Linked DNA regions of Homo sapiens: region 2 is linked to region 1. The links come from fine-mapping of genetic effects on plasma protein levels. A gene starts in region 1. The other region holds a variant in brackets. All regions are shown on one strand. Distances are from middle to middle. Region 1 holds the start of FGF5 (fibroblast growth factor 5). Region 2 overlaps FGF5 (fibroblast growth factor 5).

The links. PIP is the chance, under the fine-mapping model, that this variant and not a neighbour inherited with it causes the effect. The UK Biobank Pharma Proteomics Project read protein levels with antibody pairs (Olink). The fine-mapping took linkage between variants from a reference panel, not from the people measured, so its PIPs are less certain.
Region 2: its variant is fine-mapped to the plasma level of the FGF5 protein (UK Biobank, PIP 0.91).

Annotation. Positions count from the first base shown.
Region 1 is chr4:80,260,038-80,276,428 of GRCh38, forward strand. It overlaps FGF5 (fibroblast growth factor 5), which reads left to right and starts at 6,627. Exons shown (of 3, transcript NM_004464.4): 1 at 6,627-7,142; 2 at 14,872-14,975. The coding sequence starts at 6,788. RefSeq lists enhancers at 3,304-3,805, 6,322-6,853, 8,596-9,166.
Region 2 is chr4:80,286,722-80,303,112 of GRCh38, forward strand. FGF5 (fibroblast growth factor 5) reads left to right here. Exons shown (of 3, transcript NM_004464.4): 3 at 1-4,296. Among named protein-coding and RNA genes, the nearest start is that of FGF5, 28 kb to the left of the region's middle. The variant G/GT (reference allele first, on the strand shown) is at 7,381.

The DNA of each region.
Region 1 (16,391 bases):
GGTGTGGACACAGTAGATATGAGAAGTAACAGAATTTATCAGCATGATTGTCATAATACGAGCAAATGATCACAACATTAAAACTAAGTTGTATGTGTCATGTCTTTCTACTCCATTTTAAATCTCATTTTGTGTATGACTGCATGGGAGGTAAAGTGGGGACGTGTCGTAAGTTCTATTTTAGTTGTTATATACCATGATTATCAAATGCTCCTATAATGTGCTTATTGAATAAATGGTCCAAGATTGTTGGGCTAGCTAATTTGCAATTTGAAAAAAAATGATTAAAGGTGACAAAAGTGCAGTTTACAAATAATTCCCTTTTTAGAGGACACAGGAAAAGGAATTCTTTTCTTTCTTTCCCTTCTCTCTTTTTCTTTCTTTTTTATTTTTGTTAACAGCTTTTGTTTAAGTCAAAATCATCTTTTTGACTTCCCATAAAGTGTCTGGTTTCAGAAAAAGTATGCAAAGAATATTTCTCTAGAATGTGATGCCTAAACTTTTCCTGAAAGAAAACAACAAAACACACCAAAAACTAAACTGAAGCAAATTATCCACTTGCTATTGTTGAGGACATCTTTCAGATTCGGTGCAGTCCCACCCCAATAATTGGAGTTGCATCTCCAATTATTGTCCCCCTGAAGAAACCTAAGCACTTTATTTTGAAAAATAAATAAATAAAACATTGTCTGTGTGTTCTGGCTCTCAGACTTAGTCTGAAAAGTCACCTTTGATCAAATTATTTTCTGAACAAACAGCCTTTGAATGGGCTGGTGAATGGATAGCACGTGCATCATAGTTCCAGCAGCTTCCTACTGTTTTCTTGCTGGTACCAGGCTTGGTCTCACTTCTGTTCTCTTCCTGCCCTTCCCATTTGGCACAGGAAAGATGTTCTAGAAGAGGACATACGTTTTTCCCCCCATCCTCTATTCCCACTTTTCTTGAATGAGTACCCATTTGCTTATGGCCTGTCTTTGTGGATACAAACCAAATGCTAGAGCTATTCAAATAGCAGCTATGCTAATTTATCTTTTTTTTTCTTTTCTCATAGATAAGAAAAGTCTGATTTCCACCCAATGCACTCCTTTTGAGGAATTAAGACTGGAAGTATAGGCCGGGCTTGGCGGCTCATGCCAGTAATCCCAACACTTTGGGAGGCCAAGGCAGGCAAATCATTTGATCCCAGGAGTTCGAGACCAGCCTGGGCAACATAGCGAGACCAACCCCCCTCAACCCCCATCTCTATGAAAAATGCAAAAACTAGCCAGGTGTGGTGGTGCGTGCCTGTAGTTACAGCTACTCAGCAGGCTAAAGTGCGAAGATCACTTGAGCATAGGAGATGGAAGCTGCAGTGAACCCTGATTGTGCCACTGCACTCTAGCCTGGGAGACAGAATTAGACCCTGTTTCATAAAAAAAAAAAAAAAAAAAAAAAAGACTGGAAGTACTGCACCCCTCCACATATGTTTAGAATGTCCCCTTTGACATTATTAGATATAGACTGTACCAGTAAGAAAACCCATTACAAAGAGCAGAGAGGACTTTATTTGGGAGGCAGGGAAAGGTGGTATGATTTTTAAATCATGATTTTCATATGCATGTGTAAGGAGTACAGGGAATTGTATCCTTTATCTTCTACGGCTGGCCTTAGACAGGATAAAAGGCTTCCAGTTCTTAAGAGAAAGTATTTCCCTACAACTGGGTAATGCAGGCTAGGATAACTGGGGGTCTATAGTGGTTTGGGACTTAGTGCATGGATGTACCAGAAGCTAAAACAAAAATAGTCACTGGGATAACTGGAAAGCACAGGAGTTGGGCTTTATGAGAAAAACTGATTGCCTTGAGTTCACTTAGGTCACAAAGTACCTCTCTTTAGTAGCAAATGCTGTTTTACTTTCTGACTTCACAGATATAATGTCCAGTGGCCAATGGCCTTTTGCAAACAGGCCTCTTCTCAGAGGGAAGGACTGGACCCTGGAGAAAGAAGTCTAACCTCAGGACTTGCACAATTTGTAACTATACCTTCATCACCCTAAAAGTAGACACTGCACACATTCTTCTGTCCCTCTTGGTCTTTGGTTCTTCCTCACACAGCCGGCCCTTCCCAGCTCAGTGCTCCTTTAGCCACAGGCTATTTGTTGCTGTAGTTGCTGCCAACTTGGCTGGTGAGAAGCCAGGCCTGGAGGAAATAGAGGGTCCTGGCAAGAACCTGGACTGAGGGCCCCCACCAGGTTAGCTTCCGAGTCCTGCAATGCACTGTGCTTCTGTCTTAGTTGGCTTGGGCTGCTATAACAAGACAACCATGGACAGAATGGTTTAAACAACAAACATATTTCTCATGGTTCTGGAGGTTGGGAAGTCTGCGATCAGGGTGCCAGCATGGAGGGACTCCTTCCTTGTTTCCTCATTTGAGGGATTGGGGTTGTGAGAGGAAGAAAGCTCTCTCCTCTTTTTATAAGGGGGAGGCAGAGGGGCATGCACTAATCCCACCTCATGACCTGATTAACTTCCAAAGCCCCATATCCAAATACTATCACATAAAAGAACAGAGTTTTAACTTGAATTTTGGGTACCCAAACATTCAGTCCATAGCAGTCTCTACTAAAAAGTGTATGCAATTAGAGGCCACTGTGGGGCTCCCAGGACCTGATTAACAAAAGATAGTACTATCTGGGTATAGCCTGAGAGTATGAAAGGGTGATAGGAATATAGAGTTGGGTAGGGGTGGGGTGCAGAGGCTTTTGGGACCATGTTTGAAACAGCTATCCCAGGAAAGCATTCTAAAAATCCTTGGGTTTTCTTTGGATCAAACAAAGAAAATTTGGCCTTGCCTTCAAACTGTACAGTCATCTTAAAGCTCAGAACAGGCAAATTTCTCATGGCACCTGCACCTCCAGGAGTGGAGATTTTGGGGTAACTGAGGCTCTTGGAACAGAAGTCTGTGTAAGATCAGCCTGGCACAGTGGCAGCCTGGTTCCTGGGTCAGACAGCCTCCCAGGACAGTGGCTTGCATTGCCAGGGTTGTTCATTCTATTCCATCATCTATCTCTTGTCCGTCCTTCCAACCCAGCATGAGACATTGTAGGATGAACAGTCTTGCCTTCAGGACCCTTGCCTCAGTGAGGCCTGGCCTCAGTTTAAACCCAGGGGAATGTTGTAAATATTGAGACGGTCTCTAGAGTGAAGGAAATATTGGGCTCTGACTTGACTTATACACCCTGACTTCTCTTTTCTTAGGCTTCTGGGTTCCAACCAGAGGTTACCGGTAACTTTATCTTCTTTTGCATTGATTTCTGTCTCTAGTAACCAGATCACACTTGTAGTTACGAAAGGGATAGGGGAAATTCACCACCAGTTTTCCACACAGAAATAGGGGAGGCCTGGAAAGAAAGTTCAGATGCTGGGGTCCAGGAAAAGTGACCCTGAGGGGGTTGGTCTAGGAAATGTGAGGCCTAGTGGGGTGAGACACCGCTGAAAGAGAGCTCAAGAAGAGGGGGTGGGGACCTAAGCCGAAGCCCGCGCACTCACTGCCTGGCGCCTAGGTGACTGGTGGAATCTGCTAATCTGTTGGGTAGTTTTTCCGTCGTCTGTCAGGTGGCGATGAGTGGAAACTAATCTTCGGGGCCGTTTGTTTTACCTCTGCAGGAAGCAGGGCGCTTGCGCCTTCTCCCAACCTTGCTTTCCTGGCTGGGAGAACGCAGGAATTGGAGAACTGAGCTGTGGGCTCGAATCCGCGCATGACCTGGAGATCTGGACCAAGCTCCGAGGCTTAATGGGGAAAGCTGAGATGTCCCCAGCAGGGGGCTTTGGGCGATTAACTTTTCGGAAAGTCGCCAGAGAAAGTGTGGTGCAGGCTTGCGCTCTTTTGGGTGGAGTTCACAGGAGTAGGGCTCGAGGTAGCCAAAACAGTAAATTGAGATAGCTCCCCGCCCCACATTCCCCACTGCAGAATTGCTGTGGACAGAGGCTCTCGAAGATCGGCTGCTCAGAGTGGTAGGCAGGATGTAGACCAGGGCGGGCGCAGCCCTGGCGCATAGCGCGACCCTTTCGTCTCTCAGCTGAGCTGCGGAGGAAGGGGGCTTGGCAGCTCAGCTCACGGAACAAGCGCAGTGCTGTCTTTCATGTTTCACTGTTCAGTTTTTGTAGCTTTTTTTAATGGCCCCAATACATAACTCTCTTGTGAAAAAAAAAGTTTAATAGCATCCACCCTACACACTTATGATCACCAATGGAGATTTCCTTTTAAGCCCCGAGTATGTGGGCACATTCGGCTGCCCGCCCAACCCCCAATCCTCCCACCCCAGTATGGAAGACAGTCGGGCGTTGAGGACTGGTTTGCCAAATTCAATCACTGTCCACAACAGCTGGTCACTTGTCTCCTTTTAGTGAGCCCCTGACTCTTTCTAAGCCCTTGGAATCCAGAAAAGTGTATCTTGCCATCCTCCAGTTTGAGGTAGACTAAAGCCTGAGCAGGTGTCTTTGCCTTCCTGGGTCATCCCTAGGCAAGGATTTGATCCCCAGTTTGGCTCTTGCGGGAGTTGAGAGGGAAACAAGGATGGTTGTTTCAGTGCAGGCGGGGCTGCAGAAACTGAGAGAAGGGAGCAAAGACAAGAGGCTGATAACAGCTCCAGAAACTGGACTCCAGAGTCCTCTTGACCTCCTGGGTTTAGACAGGGGGCTGATAGTGCAGCTGGGGCAGGAACCACTCTCCTCCTCTTTCAGCAGACTCCTTGGGAAAAGGAAAGGGAGAAACAAGCAGCTGGATTTGCTTTGGAGAATCTTCGTCACTTGAGGAATGGGCTGTGTATTTGCGTGGCATGGGGGAACTTACAAATGGCATTCAGCAGCATCAATGTGGCTTAAACCCTGACAGCTTTGCCACAGACCTCAGGGCATTGCCTGAAGAAGGAACAGCACCCAGGTTCAGAACCATCCTACAATCATCCTCCCCAGAAGAAGGTGATTTCAGTCAAGTAGACCATTCTGAGAGATACTGTGACTGTTCTCAATGTCTACTTTTAGGGTTGCCTTGTAAGGATCTGCCTACCCACCCTAGTTAAGGGAGAAGTATATAACTTGAGCCTAGAACAGTGGACAGGGGGTGTGTTCAGCTCTGGACAGTATCTCATGTAGTGTGCCCATGTTATGCACATCTATGTGTGATGTCCTCTTTCTTTATCACAGTGGTTTTACTACACTTTCCAGGTAACCTTCTGTTTTACAAGTACTTTGATGTTACTCTGGCGGTGGAAGATTCCAAACCTGAAAAATCTGCATTGTTTTATATGCGTTTCATTATTGAGATGGAAAACCTTAAGTAGGTACTCAATAATGGGTAAGGCCGTTTCTTAGCTTCAACCTTGGTTCATCTGAATTGACCTTATCAGTCAATAGCACGGGCCGTTTCATTAAAATAACCAATGAATAATGTATCATAGCTTAGTTTAAAGTTTCAAATATGTTTTTAGACAGAAACATTCCAAGCATGCAAGTCAGGTGTATTTCCCAGATAAATAACAGTCTGGGGACGTTGCCCGTACAGGGAAATTCTCTGTTCTCAAGGAAATTTTCCCTTCTCGGGTTTCCTGAGGTTGAAATCCAGCGCGCACGTCATTAATCATTCACTGAGGTCGGTCCCTCAGTCAATGGCAGGTCTGGGTAAGCTAAAGCGAGCAGTTAGCTAACCCTTCCTGCCACGGGGATCCTGGGGCGAAAGAGGACAACTGGGCGGTCAGTTACATGTGCTGGTGTCCAGCCGCTGCCTCTCTTTCCCCGGTCGGAGCGCGGGGGTGCGTGTGCCCTCACTCTCACGAATACAGACGGAGAGCTTCCCAGAAGGAAAAACAAATTCGTCATAATGTTCAGCGCAGCCGAGAGTTTCCAACAAGAAAGCAGCTCCAGTCGTGGCATGATGACTCAGGGTGGCGTTTTAAACGCTGAATAAACCCATTCCTTAGCTCTTTAATAAATCGCTAATAACAGCAAAAACAGCCTTCTCCCCGAACCGCGCCACACCAAAGGCTTCCCAAGTTGGGCTGCGAATCCCTGTTTGGTTTTCCAACGCCGAAAGACGTAGAAGCAGTGGGATCTCCTGGTGGGACGCATTTCTCCAAGGGCTCCCAGAGAGAGGACGAGATAGCAGGGTTTACAGGGCAAAGAGAGGAGAACCTGGAAATCGTGTCCTGGGGGGCAAGAGTGCGTTGCCCAGTCACAAGTGTGCTGTAGAGGTGGGAGAGGACAAGGACCCATTTCCACATTTCAACCCTCCGTTTCTATCGCTGCCCCTGGAGGACTCAGCTGCTAACGCCGAGCTCGTTTCCACGCGGCTCTGGTCCTAGTCGGGGAATCCGGGTGGCCGCGCGACGCGAGAGAACTGCTGGGATGCGTGGCCCTGGTATGGGCGCACCCAGCGTCCGGGGCGCAGGTTCTCTCAGCCCAGCTTCTCCTCCCACTCACTCGCTCGGATCTCCTCCCTCCTTCACATCCCCCGCCCCCGGGACCGCGAGGCTCCCTCCCCGCACCGGCCAGTGAGTACACAAAGCCGCGGGTGAGGGGAAGCTTCGCAGGCGTGCACGGAGCAGTGAGATCACTGGCGTTATAAATATCCCGGTGCCAGCGCGGAGATCCGCTCGGGTGGCCTCTCTCTTCCCCTCTCCCCTTCTCTTCCCCGAGGCTATGTCCACCCGGTGCGGCGAGGCGGGCAGAGCCAGAGGCACGCAGCCGCACAGGGGCTACAGAGCCCAGAATCAGCCCTACAAGATGCACTTAGGACCCCCGCGGCTGGAAGAATGAGCTTGTCCTTCCTCCTCCTCCTCTTCTTCAGCCACCTGATCCTCAGCGCCTGGGCTCACGGGGAGAAGCGTCTCGCCCCCAAAGGGCAACCCGGACCCGCTGCCACTGATAGGAACCCTAGAGGCTCCAGCAGCAGACAGAGCAGCAGTAGCGCTATGTCTTCCTCTTCTGCCTCCTCCTCCCCCGCAGCTTCTCTGGGCAGCCAAGGAAGTGGCTTGGAGCAGAGCAGTTTCCAGTGGAGCCCCTCGGGGCGCCGGACCGGCAGCCTCTACTGCAGAGTGGGCATCGGTTTCCATCTGCAGATCTACCCGGATGGCAAAGTCAATGGATCCCACGAAGCCAATATGTTAAGTAAGTTACTCGCTCTCCTACAAAACCCGTCCTAGGCGGCCGCGGAAGATTCGGGAGGGACAGCAGGTATTCGCCGGGACACAGGCTCACCTTCCTGAGCCCAGGCCACTGGGACCAAGCTGATACTCAGAAACAGCCGGGCGGGTTGGGTGGAGATGCATCTATATGGCGTGCGCACACGCACCCCTCTCCTGGGCATGAGGAATTGCGATTTCTCAGGTGTATGTTACCTAGAGGCTGGTGCCCAGACGGGTACCTTGTTTTCAGTTTGCTCTAGCCTCAAAGACGAGTCCCCAGCCATGACAGGAGAGAACAAAAAACTCATTTCTTCTCACTCAATTTGTTTACCTTCTGCTTATGAACTAGCCTGGCATTTTTCATTAGGCATCAAAGGCAGCCCTTCTCCCTATCCATAACTGAAGTTATTTTTTGAAAAGAAGAATCAAATCCCAAATACTTCCCTCTTCCATCCGCTACCATAAACCTCAAATTAATATTGTATATGTATATGTATATATGTATATAAGTCTATGTATACAATGTATACACATAGGTAGATAGATAGATAGATAGATAGATACACAGATAGATAGACAGACAGATAGATAACTAGGGGACACCAGACAGACATTCCTGCTTGGAAGAAGATTGTGCTCTAGAAAACTGGACGCGTTTAGAGAGGGAGACATGATAAACATTGAAATTACTAACTCCAGAGTTGGATTTAACAATGTTTAGTATCTTGAGACCATGACTACACCGTATTAGGAGAGTGGCCAGCCTTTGGTCCCCAAGAACAGTTAGGGGAAAGTTCCTTATTTTAGAAGAAACGCAGAGGTTAAATTTGGTAGGGGTGCAGATTTTGTAGGACTTTTTATAAACAAAGTTTTAAATTTTCCCTCTGAGTTTTTTCTTTCAGCACGCTCTCTTTTTTCCTTTCTCATCTCCTCTTCCCTTCCACCCCATCTATGTTTCCAGACCATCGCAGCCACTCCTCTGGTTTCTCTTCACTGCCTCTAGGCAGCTGGGGGCAGGGACGGTTTGGGGCTGTGAGTAGGAGTGGGGAGATCTCTGTGGGGCTTTTGCTCAGTAGGGCCAGATCGCTCTTCCAGCGCGGGTTGGTCCACCAGGCAGAGCCCCAGCCAGGGCCTGTCAGGTACCCAGGGAGACCGGAAATGTAGCCAGGAGACAGCAGCGCTCACAGTCACCTGGTTTCAGTGTCAGCCTGGTTGCTCCTAGATGTTCCTAACTTGCTCCATCTCAGACCAAAGACTCCACGGGCCATTGGGCTCCTTCTTACACAGGCTCCAGAGGAGCGTGGACACCACCGGCGGTCTGAAGATTTGGCAGCCAGCAGTCTCCAGAGGGGGGTCGGAGGCGCGCAAGTGGGTAAGGCGGTAGGCTGGCTAGCCTCCTCCGGTGGGTTAAGGGGGCCTAATGCGGAAGACCTGATGGTTCATGCTGAGAGAAAAGCAGGTCTATGCCCGCCCCTCTGCGCCTGTCTAGTCTATCTGATCGCGCTGATTCAGCAGCCTGCGGCGCACGTGGTGAGGGCGCCTGGAGCGCCCAGCTGGAGAGAGGGCCCTCCGCACACGCACCAGCGAGTCCCAGGGCCTCCCTCACACTCCCGAGAGGAATCTATTTCCATATTTTAGAGTTTATTTCACTCATCGAATAACTGCTCATTTGGGGGATAAAGGGCAAGATCTGTTGGGGTGAAATGGAATTTTCTGAGATTTGAGGAATAATCAGTAACATCTATTTATTTCCATTCGTCCTTCTCATTTTGTCTCAACGGTCTTTTGACTCCATCAGCCATCACAGCTTATTCCCACTTCCGGCAACCTTTCCTTCTCTCTTACAAGAAAACTTTCTTTCTTCTGTTCTTCTTGTAACGACCCGTGGAGTCATTGGTCTGAGATGGAGCAAGTTAGGAACATCTAGGAGCAACCAGGCTGACACTGAAAGACAGGTGACTGTGCGCGCTGCTGTCTCCTGGCTATGTTTCCACTCTCCCTGGGTACATGACAGAGCACCAACAGAGGATAACTTCCGTGAGCTCAAGGGCGGACCCCAAACTAGCAGGCAGCAAGCAGCAGGTTGGAGCCCAGGGAGCTCAGAGAATGCTTCTGGGGAGGGTTTAGGTGTGCTAGAGATCTCAGAAAGCAAGGCTCATTCCCAGGATATTCACCATCTTCTCTACGAAGACACTATATGAGACGAAGGTAGTTTTACAGCTTAGGCCTTGCTAGAGGGGGTGTTGTAGAAAAGCAAAGGGGGGAAAATAAGAGCAGATCAAAAAGAGTGCACCCAGATAAACAAGACATTGACCACTACCCAGTATGTAACATGTACATTTTCTTTTAAAATCCATGTTGAAAGATATCTACAAGAGAACAGGGATGTTTCCTAAAACAGTGCCGACAAAAAGCTTAATTTAAACTTTTTCCTAATTTATTCTTGTTTACAATAACCTTTCAGAGTTTAGTTTCTGTGTCTTTCACATGACTTGCTTTCATTCATGCCATAAATCATGTACCCAATATAAGATACCTATCTCACTAAGCATGATATTTTGGTTACTTTTGTGTTGTTTGTCTTCCATAGAGTTTTTTTTTTTTTCCCCAGAAGAAAGCATAGCAAATATTCAAATCATAGTAATTTTCTGCTTTGTGATATCTGGAGTGTCTAATACTACTTCATAAAATTTTTACTACCTTTGATCAATGCAGAATTTGCATGTAATTTGGGAATTTAACATGGATCTCTGCCATTACCTAGCTGTAAAAGAGAAACAGAAACTTGCTAATTACAATTGGTCATTTACCTCTTTGAAGGCAGTAGTTGATGTTTCCTGACATTCGTGTAAACTAAGGTGTTGGCCATGGCCTTTCTTAGAGTATGTGAGGAAATGTGTTTAAATCTCCTAAGAGAGGCTGAGAGGGCTGGATCAAGGGCCACAGAGGATACCTCAGTTTGATCTCATCTTCTATTTCTACTGTATGTGAGTTAGTGATGATAGAAAACCTATTCTTTTTGTTACAACCCTGATACTTCAGAAAAGTCAAAGCTTTGCCATGAAACTGCATTCTAACAAGTTATTTTAAACCTAATAATATTCTGTAGTATTTGTCTGATAGAACAGATAATCATATGTGTTTCGCAAACTATTATTTGACAGTAAACTTTTTTTTTTTTTTTGCAAATTGCAAATGTTTTCTGGTTTCACCATGAGAAGTGCACCATGGCCATGGACTTTCAAACATAATTTGTTTAGTTTACATGGACCAATTAATATACTCTTAGCTTCTCTTACACAATAATTATCCCAAGTTTTGAACACAGAAAATGAAATCAAGCTCATTGTATATAAATCCTTATTATGAGGAAATACTGTGGAAAAATGAAGAAATATGAACAAGGCAAGATAGATGACCCAACTATTGCATGGAAACAAATGGTTTGGTTTAATTTATACGCCTTCAAGTTTAATGTCAATACAGTGCTTCTGTTGACTTACCTTGGGCCATTGAAGAATAGGCAATCAAGTAGTTGTCAGTTTAGGGAAGAAAAGTTTAAGGCTTTGTCAAAGCGTTTACATAAAATATGAAAATTCCAAGCACATATTTTGGTTAATAGAATCGTCGATGTTACTGCTTTTTAAAAAAATCTAAATTCACTACCAATTTTGGGGTCATGTGGAGTCATTAGACAGTCCCCCAAGCCTAGATAAATCAGAATCTATATCTACTATGCAGAAAAATCAAGTGGAAAATTTCTGTTGCTAATTTAATCAGTGAAGACTGCTAAACTGAATATTTCAAGATTCAGATTTCATAACTTGGCACAGCATATCTGTTACTTTGTGGATGCAAGTAGAGAAACTTCAGTTTTAAAATATTTTTGTCTGGGGATTTTCAGATGCGTTGTTGAAAGCTTCTGAATACATGGAATATCTGTGCTTTTCTATATTTTATTCATTAACAAAAGAGAGAAAAAGGAAAAATGTGTATAGTTGTATCAACCACTATCAGTAGAGCCCTATTATATTAAGAAATCTGCAGAGGACTAAGTCAAAAATCTAGAAATATGTTTTTTTTTACGGAAGTAAGCTTACATCATAATGCATAAGTGGAATAGACTGTGTGTATAAGCTGAGAGACACCAAGACATTCTTGCCTTCTTCAGCCTAGGTGTCAATGCTGAAATTCCACAAAGAGAATAATTCCTTCTGTTAAGCATTCTCCTCTTCTTTTGACCCTCTTAAATGGGAACACCTTAAGAAAAATAACACACTGTCTGTAGCACTTTAATGTGAATTTATTTACACTGAGCCACCCGTCCACCCCGTGCCTTCTCAAGCAGGAGAAGGCCACAGTAGCAGGAGAGTACTAAGACACCTGTCCATACTTGTGTATGCATGGGGTGTCCTGACAAGAGAAAAGAGAGGTAGTGAGAGGATCAAAGAAGGCAGTCAAATTTAGCAAACAGTCATTGACTATATACCATCTACAAGACAAGCTTGGCCTTCCACAGTTTGGCTTAGAAATACTGCCTTGGCATCCATAAGGAGAATTGTAAGTTTCCATCAAATTTAATATGCGTGACTCCCGATGATAAAGGTCAGAAAATTACTGAAATTAAAAAAAATCAATGTCAGAGAAATGTTTTCAGAAATTTATATATTTGTGATTTAAGGCACATGGGTTTAAAAAATTACGTAGAATTCCTGAATGAGTTACTGAGATTTGTCATAGCAAAATCAATAGGCCTGTGATGTTTTGGGGAGGAGGGCAGGAAACTGAACTGTGAGACTCATTGAATCTGCTCCAGAAAACAAGGCATTGTGAAATCACTGCTGACATTACTTTGGAAATTATGATCATAACAGTGTTCTTAATATTAGGTCATAATTACGGTAAGATTTAGAAGATCAATACCAAAGTTACTCACGTGAAAAATAATTCATTCATCTAGTCTCATCTCTTACATCTCCTGCATTCTTTATAATGTTAAATAGAATGACATATGTAAAGTGTATTTTTAAGCTTTCAGTTAAAGATAATTTTCTTAAGGTTATAAAATCTTTTAATTCTCAGGCACTATATCATTTTTATCCTGGAAGTTTTAAGAAGAAACCCAGCAATATGTAATACAATAATAACACTTTCACATATATTATTTCATCTTCCCCATATTTAAAATACATTACATGCAACTTGTACATAATATATACACAGAGTGTACACTGTATTGAAATACATGTTAAATGCATCTAAATGGGTCTTTGTTTAAAGAGAGAATGAGCTAATTATCAGAAACTATTTATTTAAGCAAAGCAGTAGTATTTCTATTAAAACAAATATTTATAAAGCCTTTTTATCTCAACATCTTAAAAGTTAGCATATAAACACATACACTTATGAGACTTTAATCTTTTATTCTGCCATGTATTTTTTCATTAATATACAATATATCTGCATGTTCAAAACCAGATAATTTTCCAGGGAATGGAATTAAAAGCCTCTAACAATCTAGCACCATGAGTAAATTGGAGGAAATATACAATCAAATCTCTCCTGTATCAACTCCATGTTGTCCCTTTTGTATCCATCATTCCACACATATACAATTTCCTTCTTTCTTTCTTTCTCATTTTTGAATGCACATGTTTACATAAATATTCACAATCACATCCCCCATCTCCCAAATATCTAAAATCATTAATGCTATTCCCAATATCATTCCGTATTTCCAATAGAAATTTAACTTTGTATCACTGTTATAGTCATGCTTTAGTAATAATATTATTATAACATATTACATCTGTGTAGAGTAACTTTACAAAGCATTTGGTGTGTTTTGTTAATATTTGATAAAATGATAATGCTTCTAAACCTTTAGAAGCACACTCAAACAATGTTCATAATAAATCCTATTATAAATAGCATTTAAAAACATTTTGAAGGAAAGGATTTATACAGCACTGGTGGTTTTTTTTTTCAGTTTCCTTCTAAAAGCAAAAGTAGTTTCCAATAGTTTTTGATTTTTGTTTTTCAATTTAAAGAAACACCTATTAGTGAACTGGTACCTGCAGTTTCCCTAAAGTGTGTTTTATTTACTTTGGGCTAAAAACATCTATTTTTTAAATAAGCTGTTCAGTTATCCCCTTTTTCACATAAACTTTCTAATCAAGTTTTTTAAGAAACCAAGTTGAATAAATAAACAGCAGTGCTTGCTAGAATTATAGATGTTAGCTCACATTGCACAAAATAAATGCTCAATAAAGTTACTCACATATATTTATAAAATATTTCTTGTTTTTGGTAAACAGAATAATTTTATATATACCTCAAATACTGCAGGGAGAGTTTGCTATTTCAAGAAAATCTGATGAATTTCTCTATTTGGCAGAGTCCTATTGAGATATCCTAATTAGTATATATGCTTAGAATATTATAGATGGAAATATTGAGATGTTCTTTTTTCCATCCCTTTCCTTCTTTGTTTCCTTCTTTTCTTCCTTCCTTCTTTTCCTTTTTAAAAGTAGAGATGCGGTGTCACTATTTTGACCAGGATGGTCTTGAACTCCTGGTATCAGGCGATCCTTCAGCCTCAGCCTTCCAAAGTGCTGGAATTACAGGCGTGAGCTACTGCACCTGGCTTCCCTTTTTCCTTTCTAAGACAGGTCCCTTTTTAGCTCTATTGAGCTAAAAATCTCTTTTTAAAAATTTTGAAATAGACAACTAATAAAACACATTATAGCTCTATTGAGCTAAAAGTCTCTTTTTAAAAATTTTGAAATAGACAACTAATAAAACACATTATGCTCTTTTCATGTTCATATAAAATACATAAATTTATGTTAAATAAGCAGGCTTTCTAATTAAGTGCAGACTATGTGTTTTATCTTATTAAACTACTCTATGAACAGTGGTGTGTAATTCTCTTGATCCAGTGGACGTGAATTTTGAAATTACTGTAGGAGACAGAGGGACATTGACTTCATAATGCTAACTATAAAATACAAAATTTATACAACAATGTAATAAATTATTTCATTAATTTTTTTCTAGGAAATGATTCAAAATGCAAGATGTCTCAAAGCATAATCCATTAAACATTTCATTGAACCAATAATTTCAAGTTATTTATAATGCTTTCAGTATCTTATATGTAGTCTTTAAATGCAGTCACTAAAAGACTGAGTATGGTATATGTTTATTTGTAACTACCATTATAACCTTGATAATTAGAGTAGAGGAATTTATTTAATGTAAATAAGTATTATTTTCCAGACTTTCAAATAGTTATACTAGTCTTGAGCACAGATTTGTGCTTTAATGTTCAAAGTAGTGTATTATCTTTGATGAAGAAACAATGGAGGAGAATTATTTTGAAAAACATTTTTTAAATGTCTTTTTAATTTCTTTAAAACCTGAGAAAACTTCATGCTCATTGTTTACTAAAAGCAACTTATTTGTCCAAATAATTACTGATGAAGTAGAATCAAATTTTTGAATCTTGAAATTATTTTAAATGAACACTTGAATCCTAGCCTTCTTTGTTTTTAACATAGTGAATGTCATGAACAATAAGGATGTTAAATACTAAGTTCTTTTTTAAAATCACAATAATAAAGAATGGAAAGAATCTATGTAGAAATTTAATTCTTCACAATGATATAAATAAGAGCCTGTGTTTTATTTTGGGATTTCTGTCATCCTAGGTGTTTTGGAAATATTTGCTGTGTCTCAGGGGATTGTAGGAATACGAGGAGTTTTCAGCAACAAATTTTTAGCGATGTCAAAAAAAGGAAAACTCCATGCAAGTGTAAGTAGAACCACTTTATATTTGTTAAAGGTGCTATAAAGATTTTACATTTGTAAAACAGAATAATTTTCCAAATTCATAGGTAAGAAAATTTGCCCAAAGAACTTAACTTTTAAAAAGTATTTTTACATTTAACCAAGATAATTTTGTGCGCTTCCAGAAGTAATAATTTAAATATTTAATTTACTTAAAAGATATTACAGAGTCTACAAAAAGTTTAAGCATAAATGTATTTGAAAACAGCATTCTCAAAGGGGCAGCCATCCACTTATTTCTTAGAAGTGGCCCACGTAAGAAGGAATATGGCAATAATATATTTCATCACATTTTAAACTTACAAGTTTATAGTGACTGTATTTGTGCTAAGTAGATGAGGTTCTTATTTAAGTTTACAGGCTACTCATAATACCAAATTGGGTCTCAGTAATGTAAAATATTTTCATATTAACAAGCAGGGAGGGAAAAAACCAATAATTAGAAGACTCTGACTTTCATAGACAAATTTTATTTAATTAATTTGAAGAATTTTTATCTTGTATTTTTGTCACATCAAAAATAAAGACTTCTTAATACTATGAAAACTAATTTTGCATTCTCAAAAATTTATTCAGACCAGTTTTATATATTGTAATCAATTCACAAACTATTTATTTGCTTTGTTATGAAAGTTCCCATTACCTGGGAAGTATTAAAACATTTTAAAGATAATAAAATATGTTCAGCTTAGTTTTCCCACTCACAGATTCTATTTATTTGCATTAGTATATACACGCTGCACTTAAAGGTGCTTTATGCTTTTTCTCTGGCATACTTATTTTCTTCACATTAAAACATTTTGAAAGCAATTATTCTTTAAAGTTAGTCCTTTAATCCTGATTCTTTATAGTCTTTATTAAATAAATTATTGGAATATCACTTTTTCAGTTTTCAAAGTTATAGAAAGTTTCAATTGATAGCAATAATTGAAACTTACTATATATAATTTGATTTGATAGATCTTTAAAAAATTCAATGAGAACGCCACTTGGTTTAATGTGTAAGACTTTTATAATTTTACTTTTCTTAACATCTAAAGTGATTTGTTAATATCTTTTGGAAGAGACAGAATTTGAACAATTTCTATAGTTATTTGAGGATTCGATGAGATAATACATGCAGTGTGCTAAGAATACTATTTGGTGTGTTATAAGTGCTCAATAAATATTGCCTATTATTATAGGGTTAACAATCTAAATATAATCTAAATATAATAAATTACTAAAATTTCAGTTTACTAACATAAATGGAAATCCTTTGTTAAACACTTAAATCACTCATTGCAAGAACTATTAAACAATTTACCATTTCATTTTTTGAGCTGGTTACTATACTCTAGCAAGATGTAGTATAATATTCATAGAAATATATTTTTCTAAT
Region 2 (16,391 bases), 27 kb after region 1:
ATAGGTGTCTTCAGAGTTCTGAAGAAAAATTACTGGACACAGCTTCAGCTATACTTACACTGTATTGAAGTCACGTCATTTGTTTCAATGTGACTGAAACAAAATGTTTTTTGATAGGAAGGAAACTGGAATTCTTTGTACTAATACAGGGAGCACACTCCTTCAGTTCAGCAAGACATAAAGCCTTTTGCTTTATGCTTGAGGGATATTTAGAACTTTGTATTTTCGGAAAGTTAAATAACAGGGACTACGTATTTTTCTGACTTTTACAGATTAACCTGAAAGAACATACATGATACATTTTTATTTTTGGTTTCCAAAGAATATTTTGATGCAGATAAAATATTTTGTTAACTTTTGTTTTTTTTTGTTTGTTTTCTTAAAAGTACCTCTGCATTGAGCATATTTTCTTACTTTTATTATTTTAATTAATATGACATAAGCAATCATTTTATGCTGTTTATGAATTATAAATGTGTTTATAGCTCATTTGTAATATGGAAATCTTTTACATTTTTCCTATTCACTGCACTTTTTTATTGTTTTTATTTCTAGCCATACCTCAGATAATATGTTTAGTTTTACATTTTAAAATGTTTAAATTCTCTTTCACAGCACCAAAGGCTCAGCTTGGATTTGTGTGTATGTGTATGTCAATTCATGACATTATGTGGAATCCTAAACCTTTGGTGGCTGGGATATGATGGGTTAGAAGCAAGGAGAAAATATAAGGACTTTTTGATGGAATTAAATGTGGGAGGTAAGGAAAAGGATTTAGAGGTAAAAGTACACTAAGTTTGCAACATTTATTGAGATCTAAGTCTGTCTTGCCTTCATTTCTCTTTTTATCTCCCCCTTGCCCTCATTCTTGAACAGCTGGAGGAATACATTTTATTCTGTCCATGAAGCATACACTATGAAATTCAAGTGCTTAAAAATACTTCTATGACTCTCTGCTATCCCACTGTATAGATCCACAGGGAGCAAACACTTAGAAATGATAGAGAACTGAAGGAGATCAATGGTTTAACAGTTATCCATGCCAAGTCCCATTGTCAGAAATATTCTTATTACTCAGTCAAACACTCTTTGAGCTTCCCTTCCTAAAGGTAACCAATCCAGTGAATAGATGTGCCCTTTTATAAGGAAACTTCTGATGTTTATTAAAAAAACTGGCCTTTTGATAGAGGTAACTTAATTTGGGAATTTGTTGTGTTGAAATGGCATTTAATTTCAACCTAAATACTGACTGCTGGACATAAATCACAGAAAATTTAACTTAAGAAAATTTACAAAATTTATTCTCAGGTAATCATTTTAATAAAGTTCTGCAAAATACACGTTTATCTTACATTCAGAAATGTGGCAAAAAAGGCATAGCTAAAGGCTAAACATATGGCTTTAGTAGTAACAAAAGGGTTCATAGAAACTTCATGGTTTGCATTTAAACATGTTTAAAGTGTACTTATAAACTATTTTTTTCTTAAAGCAAACTATGATTTATTTTGGTGCACAAATACAAAGTGGAAACTTACCAAAATTGAACTAGCTACCATATAAGCAGATTGCTTTAATTTGATGGGAAAATAGTACACACATATATATAACAAATAATATATTAAAAAACCCATCCATCAACTAAAACATTATATGTATACATCAGTATAGTGTTTTATTATAAAGCCAATTATCTGATTAAGCATTCTTTCCACTGAATGCATAATGTTTAAATAGCATAAAATGAAATGCTACAAAAATTGAACTAATTTATACTTTAAAGTATTTCTGGGTTAAATGAAACAATGAAATTTTTTAGTATGTTCAACTCTCATCCAAATGGCATATGACCCTGTTTACACAGCCTAAAGCTAAAAATATTACTCTAGTTTATTCTAATCTATTGTTAAGTATTGTGCACTGTATACCAAGTTCTTAGGGCACATGAAAAATTTTAGCTGCCAAACAGGAACTAGTAAACATATGTTCCTAATAAGTGAAGGGAAAGATAATAATGATGGTCAACAATAAGCCACGTCAATGCATAAGTTGTATAGGCTAAATGTTGCTTGTAGGCTACATTAAACTCAAATGTAATAGTTTATCTTATACTCCTGGTTTGATTTGATTAGCATATTAACGTGAAAGTAGGATAGCTACTAAATATATATTATGCAAGTCAGGAATCATTAATTTCAAAATTTAAAGCCATGCTAAAATTAAAAAGAAAATATTAAATTACACAATTACACTTGTCTTTACTGGCCATACAAAATGATTTTTTTTTTTTTTTTGAGACAGAGTCTTGCTCTGTCACCAGGCTGGAGTGCAGTGGCATGATCTCGGCTCACTGCAACCTCCAACTCCCTGGTTTAAGGGATTCTCCTGCCTCAGCCTCCCAAGTAGCTGGGATTACAGACTCATGCCACCACGCCAGCTAATTTTTGTATTTTTAGTAGAGACGGGGTTTCACCATGTTGGTCAGGATGGTCTCAATCCTGGCCTCTTGATAGTCCTGACCTCATGATCTGCCCACCTCGGCCTCCCCAAAGTGCTGGGATTACAGGTACAATGATGTATAATTAATGCTTAGTGAAGCATAAAGTTACCTACATCAATTAATTAAATGAACTTATGTACAGAAAACATGTATAAATATAAGTCTATACTAATGCTTACAACTTTCTAAGAGGGTTCTTGCTTATGTAGCTTTTTATTATTTTAAGTAACTAGAACCACCAAATATCAAATAAAATTATTTGGTTATGGTTATGTTCATCTAAACACAACAATAACTTTTATATTAATATTTAGGAGTCTATTTTGTCTATAGGTGACAAACATCTCCAGACTAACATGTCAGTTTTATCAATTATATTATGTTTAATTATTTAAGATTTCTTTATGTGGAACATCTATAGAGATAAATAGAAATTTTCAATAAGATGTAGTAACACTGTGATTTATCTTTCAAGAGTCTCTCTTCACTTCCTTCTAAAGAGACTAATTTGAGAGTACAGGTGCATATTAATTTTCTTGGTTCTTTCAGCTGAATTATATTGGTCCAGAAGTTCAAAATCATGTGACAATAATAAGGGATACTGACAGAAGTTATTTCCAAGTTTGTGTATATATTATAAAAATTACATATATAAAACTAAGGCTTTTATTTCTGTTATTTTTAAGCTTTTATTTCTTGTAGCTAAAAATAAAACATCATAAATCTGGTAGGTAAATTTCTTATTAAATCAATCTTGAAATAGAAAATGTAATAACTTTCTTACCATTAACATTTTTTACCCTTCCATAGAAGGGAGGGAATAAATCATGACTTATCCCATTTTCAATAACAAAACGAAACTATGGCACTAACCAAAAACTTGCATTCTGGCATAATTTTTACAGTTGCAGAGAATTGTTTCTGGGCTCATTAAAAAAAGTAGTATTGCAGACATTGCTGCAATGGGAAGCAGACAATAACTTCTTAAAGGAATTCTACACCTCCTTTAAGATTTACTTAATTGCTACATCTAAATTCTGATAATTTAAAATCCATTTTAGGTGATAAAATTTTTTAAAAGTTTTGAAGGAAACCTCTGGATAAATGGACAAGGCCTAATTTTTTTTTGTAGTCAATCCAACTGTACTGGCCAATTTTTGAAATAAGATTATATGATTAGGTATTAGCAGAGACAAAGAGTTACCTCCTCCATCTTACTCTGCCCTATTTGAAAGTCTCAGGGGAGAAAAGGGAACAAGATGCTGATCCAACCTGAGTGGAGTCAGGTGAGGCATCTTTACATCTAAGAATTTTTTTTTAAATTTTATTATTATTATACTTCAAGTTCTAGGGTACATGTCCACAATGCACATGTCTGTCACACATGCACACATGTGCCATGCTGGTGTGCTGCACCCACCAACCTGTCATCCAGCATTAGGTATATCTCCTAATGCTATCCCTCCCCTCTCCACCCACCCCACAGCAGGCCCCGGTATGTGATGTTCCCCTTCGTGTGTCCATGTGTTCTTATTGTTCAATTCCCACCTATGAGTGAGAATATGTGGTGTTTGGTTTTTGGTCCTTGCAATAGTTTGCTGAGAATGATGGTTTCCAGCTTCATCCATGTCCCTACAAAGAACATGAACTCATCATTTTTTATGGCTGCATAGTATTCCATGGTGTATATGTGCCACATTTTCTTAATCCAGTCTATCATTGTTGGACATTTGGGTTGGTTCCAAGTCTTTGCTATTGTGAATAGTGCTGCAATAAACATATGTGTGCATGTGTCTTTATAGCAGCATGATTTATAATCCTTTGGGTATATACACAGTAGTGGGATGGCTGGGTCAAATGGTATTTCTAGTTCTAGATCCCTGAGGAATCGCCACACTGACTTCCACAATGGTTGAACTAGTTTACAGTCCCACCAACAGTGTAAAAGTGTTCCTATTTCTCCACATCCTCTCCAGCACCTGTTGTTTCCTTTTTAATGATTGCCATTCTAACAGGTATGAGATGATATCTCATTGTGGTTTTGATTTGCATTTCTGTGATGGCCAGTGACGATGAGCATTTTTTCATGTGTTTTTTGGCTGCATAAATGTCTTCTTTTGAGAAGTGTCTGTTCCTATCCTTAGCCCACTTTTTGATGGGGTTATTTGTTTTTTTCTTGTAAATTTGTTTGAGTTCATTGTAGATTCTGGATATTAGCCCTTTGTCAGATGAGTAGATTGCAAAAATTTTCTCCCATTCTGTAGGTTGCCTGTTCACTCTGATGGTAGTTTCTTTTGCTGTGCAGAAGCTCTTTAGTTTAATTAGATCCCATTTGTCAATTTTGTCTTTTGTTGCCATTGCTTTTGGTGTTTTAGACATGAAGTCCTTGCCCATGCCTATGTCCTGAATGGTATTGCCTAGGTTTTCTTCTATGGTTTTTATGGTTTTAGGTCTAACATTTAAATCTTTAATCCATCTTGAATTAATTTTTGTATAAAGTGTAAGGAAGGGATCCAGTTTCAGCTTTCTACATATGGCTAGCCAGTTTTCCCAGCACCATTTATTAAATAGGGAATCCTTTCCCCATTGCTTGTTTTTGTCAGGTTTGTCAAAGATCAGATAGTTGTAGATATGCAGCATTATTTCTGAGGGCTCTGTTCTGTTCCATTGATCTATATCTCTGTTTTGGTACCAGTACCATGCTGTTTTGGTTACTGTAGCCTTGTAGTATAGTTTGAAGTCAGGTAGTGTGATGCCTCCAGCTTTGTTCTTTTGGCTTAGCATTGCCTTGGTGATGCGGGCTCTTTTTTGGTTCCATATGAACTTTAAAGTAGTTTTTTCCAATTCTGTGAAGAAAGTCATTGGTAGACATCTAAGAATTTTTATGACATTGAATCAGTCAGCTGGGCTACACATCATCAATCAGTATTTCAGCAATTTTATGCAATAAAAATAATATTAGATTATAAACCAAGAACTCTCATTTATGTTTTAGTTTATTAAATTGTTTTTGTCTTTATTCAGACATAAATATCACAAGTCACTCTCTAGCACCTGTTTTACCCTTCACCATTTGATCTCTAACATGATTTCTAGATTTATTACCAGTGATTGTAGGATTCTTACAATGTTGAAAGTTCTATGAGATCATAAAAAGGGACATAGTTCCTTCTCTAATGAAACTAAATTTACGTCCAGATGAAACTGGACAACCACGTGAAAAAAAAAGCTGTCAATGAAGTTATAAACATAGATCTTTTTAAAAGATCTTTTCTTAGTTTAAAAAATATCCACTGAATAAGTGTGTGAGATTTGATCAAGACATTTACAAAGCTAGGATCGATTTTGGGCTTAGCATTTTATGAAGGATGTAAAAAATTTGAATTAACCTGGAGGAAGAATGGTCAGAGTGGTATCATTGTTGATAATAAATAGCCCTACTTAATTAAACATGCAATTTTAAAAACAGCTCTTTTGTGATTAAAGTTCCCCATTCTACATGAAGTCTTCTAGAAATTCTTGAAGAAATATGAGTAATTTCTTCTTGACATCATGCCTCCAAATAAGATAGCTCAGGACACAATTTTCTGTCACCATTCCCTTACTTTCCCAAAAATTCAGGAAATGTTTTCTGAGATCCCTCCTTGCACAAGGCACTCAGCTAGCAAGACATTCTTGGACTTGCTCAGTGCTTGTTTAGTAGTTCCTTGTGTATATTTACTTCAATGTACTCTCATATTTTGAACTTCTGGAGAAAATATGTCTGCCCTCATTGCACATTTCCCACCCTAAAATCAGGCTAATAAAAATAACTCAATAAATGCTCTTAGCGAAAAGCAAACTTGAATGATGTGTTCCTCTGGCTTAAACACTTTGTAGAGGCTATTGGATATTCTAGTTATTCACAAAACTTAGTGTGTAATTATAATTATAGGTTCCTGGCATATGTTAGTTGCTCAGAAATGCTTTTAGGATGTATACATGTGCTGAATAAGATTTATCGGACAAAAATGATGATGACAGGTAAGAGAATTTCATGTTAAATATGAAATGTCTCCTACAATAAGAGTAAGAACATCCACTGCCCCTCCTACTGTACTTGAAGTTCTCAAACATAAATTTTTAGACCAAACTAAAAATATCAGGCACTTGCAGCTGCATTTAAGTATCAATACATGTCATCATATGACACTTCAATTTCACTAGCAATCATAAAAATAGGTTACTGTGCAAATCCCAGTGCTTTTGCTATTTGTAGGCCAAACAAGCAGTCTAGTAGGATGCCAGTAGGTATCAGTGGGAGAGTAAAGACATTTCTTTTTGGTAATTTATTTCTAGATGTGCTTGTCCCTTTCCCTAGATAAACTCTTTCAGAGAAGACTGACATTTTTCTGTATCCTACAGAGAGATTAGTGAATGCATAATCACACAGTGACAGGTCCAGCTCCAATGTGTTTCTCATTAAATTCTCTGTCGTTCCCTCTGTGGGAAACTGGACAATTTATCAGATTTTCATACAGGGAGGTGAATTTCTGCTGAGGAGGAAACACCAATGTCTTTTACCTTCCTGAGTGCAATTATGGCTGAGCTTCCCTGATAGTACTCCATTTTATGATAGGGTTGTCATTGTAGGATGTGTGCATTCTATAACTTCTGACACTGGTTATATATTTGCACTTTTTAAAGTTAGCTAGTTGTCCTACATTTGCCTTAACACAGAATGTCTGAGATTAAGCATACCTGTATACTAAAATATTAATTGTACAAGGAGAATATACAAAGATTTCTCTAACAGTCACCATCTTAATGGAGCATGTGAGAGAATGAGTTTCAAATCTGGAAACAGAAAGTAGTATAAAAGCGTATGTTCTCAGTCAATTCTT[G/GT]TTTTTTTTTTTTGCATAAAAGATGAATTTCAAAGGGGAGAAAAATATGTTTTCTGTTTAAGTAATTAAAGAATAACCGTTATGGCAATAACTACCATAAATTTTGTCTGAGATCTGGAGTTCCTTTAAGTTATGATTAGAAGGAAAATTCATGCCCATTTATTTATGTTGCCACATTTGTTGTATCACTGTGTAAAACAACAGATCAGCTCTGACAGAGAGTTTGTTTTCACTTTAGATATCATGTTGCCTAAGATTCTCAGCCTTTACCATTTGGTGAGCAAGCGAACAAATGAGAAAAATACACACGCATCCCACCTTGCTGGTGCAGAGCACAAACCACAAGATTTCTCCACTAGTCAAGGGAGTTTAATGTTTAATGACACAAAATCAACTCAGTCTAGCAAAACTCCAAGGTCCAAAGGAGCCAAGCAAACTAAAAGAATAATGATTTCTTGATTGCTAATAATTTATGGCAGAAACCACTAGTAAGTTTCTAATAAAAGCATTCAGTGTTCATTTAACCCCTTATACCTGGCATTATGCTGGGGTTCTGGGAATAGAATTAAACACATTGGTTTGAGGGAAATTTACATTCTTGCTGATAATATTAGGGAAGTGAACCATAGCTTTAGAATACGATATCCAGTTCTTGGTAGGTTAAAAATGACACTTATTCTTGCCAAAGGAATTTAGTATGTTGGGTCACTGTTTACCAGGATGGATCCAAAACCTTAAGCTGTAGTTTACATTACACATTTTAGAAGTAACTCTCAAGTTTCTTTGATGCTCCTTTTGGGAATTTATCGCATTTTTTATTGAATATTAACCTACAGGATGTTATCAAAGATGCAAGATGTTTCTATGCTTATTTTAAGATAATTAGGGATCCAATAGAACGTAAGAAAATTGTGTGCAGGCTTTTCTAATTCCATCTGCTATAACAAACATTTACCTTACAGCTGGGATTGGAAAAGCAATACGATCTGATTCCAGGATTGCTCAGAAATTGGAAAAAAACTCACCTGTGCTTCCCAAATTTATTTCCCAAGACAAAGATGTCTATAGCACAGAAAAAAATGCATGAATTAAAAAATCAAGATGTATTATTAAATATGGTCCTGAGTATTGCTTAACATTTCAGTTCTTTTTCTACCTGTTTGCTGGAAGCAAGAACATTGTTAACAATTTAGCACCTTTTTCATTAAACACCACCTCCCACTGTTGGTCTTAAATAAAGGATTATATATATATATCAGACTTCCTTTGAGAACAGCTGCTGCTTTTTGGACTGCTAGGATTAGTGCAAACAAACCTCCCCCAGGACATTTAAGGGGGTTGGCAAATGTTGCTGTGTCTACTTTGGTTGTTATAGAGGCACCCTTGCAGTGGTTTCAGCCAGCGTTCCTGTAACATTGGCCTGCAGTCAATAAATATTTCATGTCTCTTTCCCCTAGGGTGTGCTCAGAAGACCACCCTGCAAGTTTCTGCCTCTGTGGTCACAGCTTCATGCCGTGGGCGTAAAGGTGGGTGTGCAGCCAGAGGCAGGATGTGCAGGCAAGATCCAATGTGGTTAAAATTTGGGATCACTAGTCTGGCTTTAGGGAATCTGGAGACCATTTCATGTTAACACTCATTCTAAGAGAGAAAGCATGTCCATCAGAGGATTATCATTAAGCATCAGTGTGATTCACTCAAGGGTTAATAGAAAGAAACATTCATAAGAGGTGAGGTTTCAGGTTAAGAGAGAAATAGGAGCCTCTTGTTCTTCTCACCAGAGTGTAGAATGTCTTCTTCCCTTTAGGAAGAAGACCCTCAAAGTTTCCAGAAGTTTCCAAAGTTTCCTAAAGAGACCCAAGTGGGAAAGGATCCATGTCTCCTTAGCTCTTTAAAACATGTCATGAATCAGGCATCCAAACAATAATGCACTCAGTGACTGAGTGAACATCTAGTGAACCGAATGATTCAGAGATTGGTCGAGATTTATTAATTGCCTAAAAAAGAGACTCAAAGGCCAGGGAAAGTAGAGCCAGTTTTGCTTTGCTTAAGAAAATAAGAGGAAAAATAAAAATGATGTCGCACGTTGCTTTTGGGGCCTAATATCACTTTCCCTCCACCCTCGCAGAGGGTAGGTCTAACTCTTGTTAGTTATCATTTGGATGGTTTGCTTAGTTATTCCCTGTCTGTTTTCCATAGACATTGTTTGAGTACTTACTATATGCCAAATATGCCACAAGTGATGGGTGTAGAGATAAATAAGACCTGGTTTCTTCCCTCAAGAAGCTTGTAGTCTAGATGAGAAGACGAAAAATTAAAAAAATATGCTCTATATATCCCACGAGGGCAGAGCTGGACTACTGTAATAAGTACTGCCACCTTACTTTTGAACAGCGCTTTTTAGTTTTAATGTAGCACTTAAAGCATTCAGAATATATTTAGCTGCCTTATCTAATTAGATATAGAAGTAAACCACCTAAAAGGAAATGAATGGCTTCTAAGAAGTTAGCATTTAAACCTAAGATACCTTGATGCTTGGTCCAAATTCCCTTTTCAGTGCTCATAACTCAGCTGCTGAATATGCAGCTGCTCAAGGCCGTGCCTCTTACCTTAGGCAACTACCAAGGTTACATTCATTCCCAGGGTACCCTGAGGCCAATAACTAGCTGATTCAGAAATACAATGGCCTGACCCCCTTGCCACGATTTTTAATCAATATGAAGGGCCATAGCAGCTTCAAGGCACCCCTAGGATCAGCTGAGGCCCCAGCTGCCGACATAGAGAAGACAATTTTCTCCCTCCACCCTGCCTTTTTCATTTCCTTACAGGTAGGGACACAGATACAAGACAATACTCTCGACTACATTTGAATTCTAGATAAACAATAATTTTTTGTATAAGTATGTTCCAAATATTGCATAGGTATCCTGTAGTTTTATTTGCTAGGTCTGGCACTACTATGTACAATTGTAACTCTGAAGATCACTCCCTGTGAACGTGCTGTGTGCTACTCTCAGCCTCAGAGTGTTGCTGGGGAATCCATTCTCTGGGAAAAGGTATTGTGGTCAGGAAGCACAAGGGAGGGCCTGGACTGCCAGAGAAAAGTGTGAGGGGAATAAGAAGAGGATCCTCTTTCTACAATCAGAGATGAAGGCATATTTCAACATTCTCATGGGCATAAAGAAGTTTATACTCATAAGCAAGACAAAATTCAAAAGTTTCAGTGGCTATACAAAGCCTAAAATATTCTTTATCCAAAGCGTGATCTTGAGGCCTTAATTCTTTGCTCAGCCTCCCAAAACATTAGCTGTATGTGTTTGTACATATAATACTAAGGCACATGGACTGTCTTTTCCTAAATTATGCAAGGCATGTGATCAATTTGGGACTTATTAATGACATTTCTGAAAGTCTCTCAAAAAGTTGGTCAGCCTTTCTTCATAAAACACATTTTTACATGTTTTACAAAGTGCCACATACACCTGGCCTTTCTGCTACCTCAGCAGCTATTTCTTCCTGTCTCTTTGGCTAGCTCCTCTTTTACCTGACCTGTAAACCTTGTGGGACCCCAGGGCTCAGTTTTTGCCTCCTTTGTGTTCTTTCTGTAAACTCACTTCCTACGTGATTTCACCTCCGCCTTACATACCAGATGTATGCTGACGACTTCCACATTTAAATCTCCAGCCTCAACCTCTCCCAGAATTTCACATTCACGTAGCCAACTGCCTGTTGCAGCAATTCTATATTGCTACAGGATATCTAACAGGCATCTGAAGGCTGACATGTTCAAAACTCAACTCTTGTTCCCAAACCAGTTAAGCTTCCAGACTTCTACAGTTTAATAAACAGCATGATGATTTATTCAGTGACTCGAGCCAAAAATTTGGAATCATTCTTGTGTCTTTCCTTTCTCTCATAACCCTCATCCAGTACGCCAGCAACTCCTTTTGGCTAAACCTTTAAACAAATTCTGAGTTCTTTCTCTGTCTCTACTCCATATCTCATCTTTGGCTTGACCTGTTGCTATATCCTCTCAACTGGTCTCTCTTCTTCTCACTACAGTGGATTTTACAGAGAAGTCAAAGTGAAATTTTAAAAACAGAAATCACGTCTTTTTCCTGCTCAGAACTCTTCAGTGGCTTCCCAGCCCACTAAGATGGAGCTAGTCCTTTCCTCCCTCTCTTGTTCCATCCCCTAGTCTCTTCCACCTCACTAACTCTGCTTTAACCCAATGCCTGGAATGCCTTTCCCCCAATTGTTCAGCTATTCTACTCCTTCTCTCCTCAGAGATGCCTTCCCTGATGACTGTTTGAAGTGTCTTCCCCTACTTACTCCATCTCATCCCCTTCTTATTTTTGTTAGTGCATTTTTCATGCTCCTTAATTATCTTGTATACTTTGGTGTTGACTGATTTCCTCAGGGTTATATAAGTAAGTCTGTTTCCCCCCAATAGAATGTAAACACCTTGTGTAAAGACCCTTCGCTTGGCTTCTTCACTGCAGGATTTCTGGTTCCTGGTGTGGACCTGCCACAGAGGAGGTACTCGATATTTATTTATTTATTGGAATGACAATATTCCCTATTCTAGAAAAGGCTAGAGGGTTGAAAGTAAGTGAACTATACAATTAGCCAGAATGATTAGTCAAGCTTTAATTCTAATAAGCTCTCCAACTGGAATGCTAAGTTTGTCTGAAAGTGCAATTAATTCTCTGGCCGAACATGAAAAACCTCCCAACGATTTACCAATTTTTCAGTAAGGTAAATTTTGTAGAAGGATTAGGAAAGCCTTAAACCCTAATGTGGTATCACCATGTTTGCAAGCTCCCCTAGACAATTTATCTATGCCCTTGCTGGATGTGGTCAAGATTCTAAGGATCTGCCTTATGATCAACACTAAATAGCATATTAATATTAATAAATATCTGTATGGCGTAAAACTGAGACATTCACCAGCAAATATACAAATACATAACTACTCTTTGATTAATTTTAGGATAATCCATCAAAAGTAATGTGAATATTATACTTTCTTTTTTTCCAATATTAAACCATTTTTAATTGACACATAATTGTACATCTTTATGGGATACAATTTGATGTTTCAATACACATATATGTTATATAGTGATCAAATTAGGGCAGCTAGCATTTCCATCATCTCATGTATTTATCATTTTTTTGTGGTGAGAACATTCACAAGCCTCTCTTCTAGATATTTTGTATTATACAATACATTATTGTTAACCATAGTCACCCTATTGTGCAACAGAACACTAGAACTTATTCCTTCTATCTCATTGTAACTTGTACCTGTTGACCTACCTCTCCCCATCTTTCCTTCCCCCCACCCCTCCCCACTTAGTCTCTGGTAATTACTGTTCCACTACCTGCTTCTACAATATCAACTTTTGTATTTGTTTTTCTGTGTTTGACTTATTTCACATAAAATTATATCCTCCAGGTTCATCCATGTTGTCCAAATGACAGGGTTTCATTTTCTTTTATGGCTGAAAAGTATTTTATTGTGTATATTTACCACATTTTCTTTATGTGTTTATCCATTGTTGGACACTAATTTGATTCCATATATGAGCTATTGTAAATAATGCTGCAATAAACATGGGAGTGCAGATACATTTTCAACATGTATATTTCTGTTGGATATATCCCTAGTAGGGGGATTGCTGGGTAATAGGGTAGTTTTGTTTTTAATATTTTGAGGAAATTTCCTACTGTGTTTCATAATTGCTGCACTAATTTACAATCCCAAAAACCATGTGTAAGCGTTCCCTTTTCTCCACATCCTTGCCAATAGTTTTCTTTTGTCTTTTTTGATAATAGCCATTCTAACTAGAGTGAGGTGGTATTTTGTTGTGGTTTTCACTTGTATTTAGCATAAATGATTAATGACATTAAGCATTTTTTTCATATATCTGTTGGCCATTTGTTTGTCTTCAAAGTCTGCTAAGGTCTTCTGCCCACTTTTAAATTGGATTATTATTATTATTATTATTATTATTATTATTTTTGCATTGAGTTCCCTTTATATACCGGATATTAACCCCTTGTCACATGTATAGTTTACATATATTTTCTCCTATCCTGTAGGTTTTATTTTCACTCTTGTTTCATTCACTGTATGAAAGCTTTTTCATTTGATGTAATCCCGTTTGTCTATTTTTGCTTTTGTTGCCTGTGCTTTTGAGGTCTTACTTAAAAAATTTTCACCCAGCCCAATGTCGTGAAGTGTTTCTCCTATAAAAATTATGCTGTGAAGCATTTCTTCCAGTAGTTTTATAGTTTCAGGTAATATTTATTGATTGAATGAGTACGGTCAGTTTTGCTACAACAGTTGTTTCGAAAACCCTAATTTGTTCCAACTCCATTGATAGATTAGGAAACAATTTGAGCATAATGTAAATTTTGTGTTAACTCATATGCAATTTCATCTGTGAGAAACACTAGATATTTCAGCTGAACTGAGCTATGTGGGAATACGCAATATATACATACACATACCTCATGAGATCAATAAGCCATACCTATTCATACCTGGCATTACAATTTTCCATCAGATACCCCTCCTTCAAACATGTTGTGGACTAAATTGTTTCCCCCTAAAATTCATATGTTGAAGTCCTCACCCCTAATATAACTGTATTTGGAGATGTGGGCATTAAGGAGATAATTAAGGTTAAATGAAGTCAGAAGGATGAGTCCCTAATCCATTAGGACTGGTCCTTAAAAACAAAGGAAGAGACACTGGAGCTCTCTTTCCCCTCATGCACAGAAAAACAGTAAGTGAGGAGAAAGCAACAAGGCAACCCTCTGTAAGCCGGCAAAAGAGCCCTCAATAGGAACTGAATCTGCTGGCACTTTGATCTGGGACTTCCAGCTTCCAGAACTGAAAAAATAAATTTGTTGTTTAACCCACCTAGTCTGTGGTATTTTGTTATGGCAGCCTGGGAAGGCTAATACAAACCACTTGACAATACCTCACAAGCCACAACCCTTTCTATTGCTACCCTACTCATGCAGCGCAGCATGCATCCTCCTATTTTTGTCCCTCTTTTTAAGCTTTTTTGAATTTTTCCTCTCTGTTCTCTTTTCTTTTTCTCTTTATCTTTCCTTTATGGTAGAAGCTTTTTTTCTCAGTTTATTTCTTCTCTTCTTCTTTTACACAGAACACACTAGAAACTTAAGTACAAGCAAACTTCAGACCCCTTTAAAGGTAAGATGCTCTATTTATTATAGTATTTGTATATTTCTTAAACTTTTAACATGTTTAAGACTATGTGTACTTTTTATTGGGCCCTTATCCTTTTTTCCATGTCTCTGAAGAAGGTTTGTTTGTTTGTTTTTTGAAACGTAGTCTGGCTCTGTCGCCCAGGCTGGAGTGCAGTGGCACGATCTTGGCTCACTGCAAGCTCCGCCTCCCGGGTTCACACCATTCCCCTGCCTCAGCCTCCCGAGTAGCTGAGACTACAGGCACCCGCCACCACGCCCCTAATTTTTTTGTATTTTTAGTAGAGACGGGGTTTCACCGTGTTAGCCAGGATGGTCTTGATCTCCTGACCTCGTGCTGGGATTACAGGCGTGAGCCACTGCGCCCGGCCAGGTTTGTTTTTAATTTTATTTATTTATTTACTTTTATTTTACTTTAAGTTCCAGGATACATGTGCAGAACATGTTTGTTTACATAGGCTTGTTACATAGGTATATGTGTGCCATGGTGGTTCACTGCACCTGTCAACCCATCATCTGGGTTTTAAGTTCTGCATGCATTAGCTATTTGTCCTACTGCTCTCCCTCCCCTCGCCCCCTAATGCCCAACTAGCCCCAGTGTGTGTCCTTCCCCTCTGTATGTCCATGTGTTCCCATTGTTTAATGCCCACTTACGAGTGAGAAATTGCAGTGTTTGGTTTTCTGCTCCTGCATTAGTTTGCTGAGAATTATGACTTTCAGCTTCATCCATGTCCACGCAAAGGACATGATCCCATCCCTTTTAATGGCTGCATAGTATTCCACGGTGTATATATACCACATTTTCTTTATCTAGTATAGTATTGATGGGCATTTGGGTTGGTTCTGTTTTTGCTATTGTAAATAGTGCTGCCTCATGAAGTTTTTGAGTATTAATCCCTTAACCCTGTTTTCTTATGAGTCCTGTGGTTTTTATTCCACAATTTTGCATATTGCAGTGATTTTTTTAGAAATACCTGTTGAGCTATAAGAGAAATGACTGGTTTTTACCCTCACAAAAACTTAGCAAGTTAGAAAAATGTATCCTTATTTTACAGATGAAGCAGAAGATCGAAGCATTTGGTATAAGCCACAATGTGTTCTTTACTGTGCCAAATATACTTTTGTCTTGAATCTTCTGACATTAACTTTTATTTTTTAATGTTGGTAACCAGCTTTAATCTAATCAACTTCTAAAAAATCGTATTTTGTAGTATATTTATCTTGGCACAAGGAAATGAGGACATGGCCTAGATAATTTAGGTCCAAAGTCAACCATTAACCATATAATCTAGATTAAAATTTTAAATAGTATTGAGAGGGGACAGTGTGCTGGCAGCCCTCACAGCCCTCGCTCACTCTCCGCACCTCTTCAGCCTTGGCGCCCACACTGGTCGTGCTTGAGGAGCCCTTCAGCCTGCAGCTGCACTGTGGGAGCCCCTTTCTGGGCTGGCCAAGGCTGGAGCCGGCTCCCTCAGCTTGCAGCAAGGTGTGGAGGGAGAGGCGCGGGCGGGAACTGGGGCTGCCCACGGTGCTTGCGGGCCAGCGCAAGTTCCAGGTGGGCGTGGGCTTGGTGGGCCCCCGCACTCCGAGTGGGAAGGCCAACCCTGCAGGCCCTGGGCAGTGAGGGGCTTAGCACCTGGGCCAGCAGCTTCTGTGCTCGACTTCCCGCTGGGCCTTAGCTGCCGCCCTGCCAGGCAGGGCTTGGGACCTGCAGCCTGCCATGCGTGAGCCTCCCCCATGCCGTGGGCTCCTGCGCAGCCTGAGCCTCC